Linked DNA regions of Homo sapiens. The protein of the gene in region 1 interacts with the protein of each later gene in a biochemical or structural test. Each region holds a gene or a part of one and is shown on either strand. Other genes may lie near its edges.

Region 1 (3,500 bases):
CATTCCAGTCATAGAAAATAGAGTTTTATGACAGTGTTTTCTATCTAAGCCTCATGAATGCCCTTACCCTTATTTTTCCTTTAGTTTCTCACCTCCTTATAATTTAAGTAATCTTGCTTTCTCTTTTTTTACTCCTGGTTAACTGACTTAAATGCTTTTTTGGCAAAAGCACAGTAGAAGAACACATATATACATATTTTCCCCAATCATAGGATAATAGCATTATCAACTAGACAAGAAAGTTAAGTGTATTAACACTGCATACACACACACACACACAAACACAAAAGCCTCAGGGAAATAAATTATATGAACATAAAGGGAAAGAGAAGAATGCAAAAAGACTTTCCTGGAGAGGAAGATTTTCCGGTTTGTGAAGTCATCAATATCATACAGGGTTATAAGTATCAAATAATATAGTAATAAATCCATGAAACACTTCATAAACCTTAGTTATTATTACTGTCATTATCTAACAAGGTTGACTACCTAGGAAGCTAATTGCTGGAAAACAATAATTTGCAAAAACCCCGCTATTTCTTTCAAGCAAAAATACACTATTTTTTTATGCAAAAATATAAAATATATTGTCACAAAGTAAACAGTCAATATAAACTTCAGCATGGAGCCAAAATGAGCTCATTATTAGAAAAATAGTATTAATCAGGAGAAAAGTGCTTCAGAAACAATGTATTTTAGTCAGTTAGCTTAAAGCCATATAAACAATCTATCAAGAATATACTGGCTCATCTCAGTTATAATGTCACTCTCTCATCTGAAAATAAAATGGATATTAAACAAAAATCTTTTTAAAAATATAGAAGTAAAATATACTAGAACCTCATTTTAACATCGTTCTTAGAGTTACACAAAGTAAGTAGTGCCATGTCCACAAACAATACTCTTATCTAGGAAATCACTTTAAATCCTTCATAGTAGTTGGCATGATATAAATAAATAGGCATAAGGGTAAGACAAACTACAATATGAAAATGAAAGTCATTTTCATAATTCTTATCACTAAACTCACATTGGGATAGAGACTGAGTATCCCAAATGAATTTATATTATGCCAAATTCTAGAAAAACATAGTTTTCCCCAGTACATACTGTGTGGACTAAAGATGGCCATCACACTCCCATTAGGAGGTGAGATCTATATCCATTCCCTTTGTAACTGAGTGGGCTCTTTTACTAATATGGTGGAATCAGTGCTGTGCCAGTTTCCTAGCCCAAGCCCTAAAATGTTAGCATCTTCTACCTCCTTATTCTTGGGATATTCTCTCTTGTAACCCTGAGCCAACATGTGAGAAGTACAATCACACTGTTACAGAAATTGATGCAGTTTCTGATGTAGTCAGCCCCTTCACTAGATTCACGGTAAGGACTCCCCTCTACTAGACCCACTGCACTCAACTCTATGTGGGAGGGAGCACGTGGGTGAGTCAGCGCAGATCTAGCCAGCTGCTCCAAGCACCAATACAGGAACAAGTTTTGCATGGGGCCCGCAGTCAGACCAGACACAAGCAAGCAAGTGCAGGACCCAGCCATCCGCCCCAGGCACGGACACAGAAGCAAACTCTACGTGGGGCCCACAGCCAGACCAGGCATGTTGCCTCAAGGGGAACATGGCAGTGCCCAGGTGAGGGGGCCCACAACCCCAAAGCCCCAGGGGAAGTGTTACAGTGCTCCTTTAGTTCTGCCATCAGACAACAGTGTGTTGGCAGCTCAGTTGGCTTCTGGCCTTGTCACCTAGGGCAGCTGCTCTCCACCAGGAAGGGCAAAGTGCCAGTGTGACAGCCTTTCTGGGTACCCACACTTGGTGGGTCCCAAGCTCTTGTCTGGCATCCAAGAAGAATGAGGTCACAGGGATGGTTAAAAGATGGCGAAGGTGATAATTTTATTGAGCGATGAAAACAGCTCTTAGCAGAGAGGGGAGCTGGAGAGGGGACAGGAAGAGCAAGTCGTCTTCCCCGAAGTCAGGTTGTCTCTTCCTCTACTTACTGAGTCTGGGGTCTTTATAGGCACAGGATGAGGAGAATGTGCTGAATTAGCTTATGAGTAAGCAAAAAAGGTTGAAGTGAAGACACTACTCAAAGATGGGCATGACAGTGTAGAAAACCAATTAGGAAAGGGTAGATATACATAAAATAGGTGAAGAGTGGGGATCAATCAGAGGAAAGCACACCAAACAGGAGGACAAGTTCTCAATCTGGTCCAAGGATTTAACTTGTAGCTTGGCTTTCAGGTTTTAAACTGTCTTCAACATGGAGATGGGGTTTCTCTGGGTACCCGTCCCTATCTGCCTAGGCATTTGGCTGCCTCCTGTCGCTATCAAAACCACATGGAGAGGTGTCCTGAGAATACATTAGGGAAGCAGAAAAGCCCAAAAGAACCACTTAAATTCCTAACCCACAGAATTGTGAGCATAAAAACATATTGTTCAGTGTGGATGGAGGGCAACCTCTTATTCAGCAATAAATACACTGATATCAATACATAACCAACAAAACTAAAGGTGAACCAGATTACAAACACTGTGGAAAAGCCCTTTAAATGCCATCATCCAGCCTACTAGGAAAGGTAAATCCTGAAGAATGTTTTTTACAATCACAATTAGCATTAATACATACCAGCTCATCTAAAAAAGCCTGCTTATTCTTCCTTTTTAGAATCTGCTGCAGTTGTTCTTCTTTTTGTATAAATAATCTTCTTTGTTCATTTTCCTGTCGTTCCACTTCTAAAGCTTCTTCCAGTTCTTCCTGTTCTCGAGTCTAAAACAAAAATTTATATATGGCGTGGAATAAATTTAGGAGCCAAGAGCAATCATATACCACACTCTAATACTTTCTTTATTGGAAGCATAAAACACACTAGTCACTTATTATTTAATAATGTAGCAATTCCATATTGAAGAAAATAGAATTTACTTTATTTCATGTAGACACGTTACTATTAAATAAAACAACTATTCTGTTATACCATACTAGTGGAATTTTGCTATACTAAGGCCACTGGGAACATATTAAGGGAATTTGAGGGATGAGTTTAGAAAGATGACTAGAGGCAGTAAGGTATACATAAAGATCAATTGGGTTCAAGACTGACAATAGGAGGACTAGTTAGAAGTATATTCAAATAACCCAGATAAGAAATAAGAGCCCTACGCAGCGGCTCACACCTGTAATCCCAGCACTTTGGGAGGCCACGGCGGGTGGATCACAAGGTCAGGAGTTCGAGACCAGCTTGGCCAACATGGTGAAACCCTGTCTCTACTAAAGATACAAAAAATTAGTCAGGCATGGTGGCACATGCCTGTAATCCCAGCTACTCGGGAGGCTGAGGCAGGAGAATCGCTTGAACCCAGGAAATGAAGGTTGCAGTGAGCCAAGTTCACACCATTACACTCCAGCCTGGGCAACAGGGCGAGGTTCCATCTCAAAAAAAAAAAAAAAAAAAAAAGAAAGAATAGAAATAAGAGCCCTAAATAAAGTAATAAT
Region 2 (3,500 bases), about 45 Mb from region 1:
AGCTTAGTCAAAAACAAAGCAAAACCAAGCCTGGGGCTGGAGGGGGCAGCAAGGAAGGGAAAGTCTCCGTGAGGATACCCTGGCCTCCGTCACCTGGGCCAACCCTTATCCTCATCACGCAATGGTGGCAGGAGCATGGCTCTCTATGCCCAGGCCCCACCAGCGCCCCCATGCCTGTCTGCTGAACCAGTGTGACAGGAAGGACTATGGCGGCCGAGCGCAGCTGAGACAGAACTCATGCAGCTCCGCACAGGGAATCAGGGTGCAGGACAGGCTCCCTCAGGGCAGAGTGGGATGTGGAGCCCACACCCCCGCAGCCTACCTGGAGATGGGCATGGCCAGCCACTCCCCCATCGCCACCCACGGTACTCACAAAATCTTGCTGAATGTCCGTGAAATCCTTCCCATATTTTTCCAGGGCTTCCTCGAAAAGGTTGGCCTCTGATGCAGACCACTCCTCCATCTCGTCCCTGCAGAGCACGGGCCCGCCCTGCGGCACCAGCGCCGAGATGGCCTTGGAGATGTCGTAGATGTTCTTGTGGAGAGTATCCATGGCGTGGAACTGCGGCAGGAGACAGCAGGGTCACCCGGGCCAAGGTGGCTTTTCCTGCACCTGTGGCACGGTACCCCCTCCCTCAGTACCTCAAGGATCCCCTACTGCAGGCCCAGCAGCACAACCCTCCCTGCACCCTCAGCACAGTCTGGCCGAGTTTGGGGTGGATAGGAAAGGCCAGTCCAGGTGGGACAGCACCTCTGCAGGGGTCCTGAATACCTGGGGCAGGTGCTGGGCCCTGGTAGGAAGAAGGGCGCAGCCACTCTGGGCCATGGGCCACCCCAGGTCTCACCTGTCCCGCCCTGGGCCCACTTACCAGGGTGATGTCTCGGGAGGCAGCTGCGGCGCTCATGTGCAGGCTGGGCTGTCGGACGGAGCTGCTGCAGTCCAGGGCCCGTGCGAAGGTGCCCACAGAGCTGGGGAAAGGAGATGCGCTGACCACAGTGTCGGCCAAGCAGGGACTCCCCACAGGCACACCGCTCCCCAGGCGCCAGGGACCAGCGGCCACGGGCAGCACGGACTCCCCCAAGGCACACCACTCCCCAGGTGCCAGGGACCAGGGGCCATGGGCAGCACGGACTTCCCCCAGGCACACCACTCCCCAGGTGCCAGGGACCAGGGGCCATGGGCAGCACGGACTTCCCCCAGGCACACAGCTCCCCAGGTGCCAGGGACCAGGGGCCATGGGCAGCACGGACTTCCCCCACGCACACCGCTCCCCAGGTGCCAGGGACCAGGGGCCATGGGCAGCACGGACTTCCCCCAGGCACACAGCTCCCCAGGTGCCAGGGACCAGGGGCCATGGGCAGCACGGACTTCCCCCAGGCACACAGCTCCCCAGGCGCCAGGGACCAGGGGCCACGGGCAGCACGGACTCCCCCCAGGCACACAGCTCCCCAGGCGCCAGGGACCAGGGGCCATGGGCAGCACGGACTCCCCCCAGGCACACAGCTCCCCAGGGACCAGGGACCAGGGGCCACGGGCAGCACGGACTCCCCCCAGGCACACAGCTCCCCAGGGACCAGGGACCAGGGGCCATGGGCAGCACGGACTGCCCCCAGGCACACAGCTCCCCAGGCGCCAGGGACCAGGGGCCATGGGCAGCACGGACTCCCCCCAGGCACACAGCTCCCCAGGGACCAGGGACCAGGGGCCACGGGCAGCGCGGACTCCCCCCAGGCACACAGCTCCCCAGGTGCCAGGGACCAGGGGCCATGGGCAGCACGGACTGCCCCCAGGCACACAGCTCCCCAGGCGCCAGGGACCAGGGGCCACGGGCAGCACGGACTCCCCCCAGGCACACAGCTCCCCAGGGACCAGGGACCAGGGGCCATGGGCAGCACGGACTCCCCCCAGGCACACAGCTCCCCAGGCGCCAGGGACCAGGGGCCATGGGCAGCACGGACTCCCCCCAGGCACACAGCTCCCCAGGGACCAGGGACCAGGGGCCACGGGCAGCACGGACTCCCCCCAGGCACACAGCTCCCCAGGGACCAGGGACCAGGGGCCATGGGCAGCACGGACTGCCCCCAGGCACACAGCTCCCCAGGCGCCAGGGACCAGGGGCCATGGGCAGCACGGACTCCCCCCAGGCACACAGCTCCCTAGGGACCAGGGACCAGGGGCCACGGGCAGCGCGGACTCCCCCCAGGCACACAGCTCCCCAGGTGCCAGGGACCAGGGGCCATGGGCAGCACGGACTCCCCCCAGGCACACAGCTCCCCAGGGACCAGGGACCAGGGGCCACGGGCAGCGCGGACTCCCCCCAGGCACACAGCTCCCCAGGCGCCAGGGACCAGGGACAGACTGCATGAGCATCGCAGGGAGCAGCCCGCAGGTGGCGAGGACTCCTCGTGTCCTGGGCCCCAGGCTGCGGAGTAGGGCCCGGCACCCACCCCAGAACCCGTGTGCGTCTAACTGAGGGCATCCCGATAGATTGGCAGCCGCCTTGGGGCTTCTTTTGGGGTTTTCTCCACCTCCCAGGCTGCTGGCAGGGAAGGTGCATGGTCCTCTCCTGGGCCTCGGCCTTCGCCCTGCCCCAGGGGTCTGCCCGGGCTGCAGCTGCTCTGCTCCATGACCAGGCCCAGCCCACTTGCTCCCAGTGGCCCAGGAGTGGGAAAGCACCTCTGGCCCATCCTGGGAAAGCCCCATTAGGGACACATGGGCAGGCACACAGGCCTGCCCCCCAGAAGGGCCGCCCTTCTATTTAATGAAGGGCCTGGACCCAGCACTCCCGAGCCTCTCTGGGAACTGCTACCGGGGGTCTCAGGGCTGCAGCGCATGGGCTTCTTGTTGGGATATGGGATCCAAGACTGTCACGTCCCCAACACCCACCACAGGGAAGGGAGAACAGAAGCTCCAGGCACCACCCCTGCTGGCCTTGCCCAGGAGCAGGACTCACCGGGCCACCACCAGGAACTGGTCGATCTGCTTGTCTGTGAGTGGGTTGTGCGCCTCCCACACCTGGGTCTCCAACCTGGACTGGTCTCGGCCATCCTCCTCGCCTACAGGGAGGAAGTGTGGCCTTTCTGAGACGGGGTCCCACGGCGCGCCGGGCCGCGCCTCTCCTCCCCGGGTGCGGGGAGCTGCTGGGACGGGGAGGGGGAAGGGCTGCAGGGCCCCATAGGTGAGGCCAGGGTGCAAGGCTGGACGGAGGCTGTTGCACACACAGGCACACAGTGGCCTCTCAACCCGGGGCTGGGGTGCACACGCAAGGGGCCTCCCAGCCCACCCAGAATGCAGGGCTCCAAGAACTGTGGCCACAAGAGATGGGAAGGTTGGTTTGTAAATTTAAATCAAGCCTTTTTATTTATTTATTTATATTATTATTATTATTATTATTATTTTTTGAGACGGAGTCTCACTCTGTCGCCCAGGCTGGAATACAGTGGTACGATCTTGGCTCACTACAACCTCCGCCTCCCAGGTTCAAGCGATTCTCCTGCCT

What was found. The genes of interacting proteins can lie anywhere in the genome.
Region 2: the proteins of MNAT1 (region 1) and MTA1 form a complex in vitro, tested with the Homo sapiens proteins (one study listed by BioGRID).

Annotation. Positions count from the first base shown.
Region 1 is NC_000014.9:60,811,261-60,814,760, reverse strand, and holds part of MNAT1 (CDK-activating kinase assembly factor MAT1), read right to left. Parts: intron 2,775-3,500; coding exon 2,634-2,774; intron 1-2,633.
Region 2 is NC_000014.9:105,457,827-105,461,326, reverse strand, and holds part of MTA1 (metastasis-associated protein MTA1), read right to left. Parts: intron 3,058-3,500; coding exon 2,955-3,057; intron 970-2,954; coding exon 870-969; intron 563-869; coding exon 374-562; intron 1-373. UniProt on the Homo sapiens protein: Transcriptional coregulator which can act as both a transcriptional corepressor and coactivator. Acts as a component of the histone deacetylase NuRD complex which participates in the remodeling of chromatin.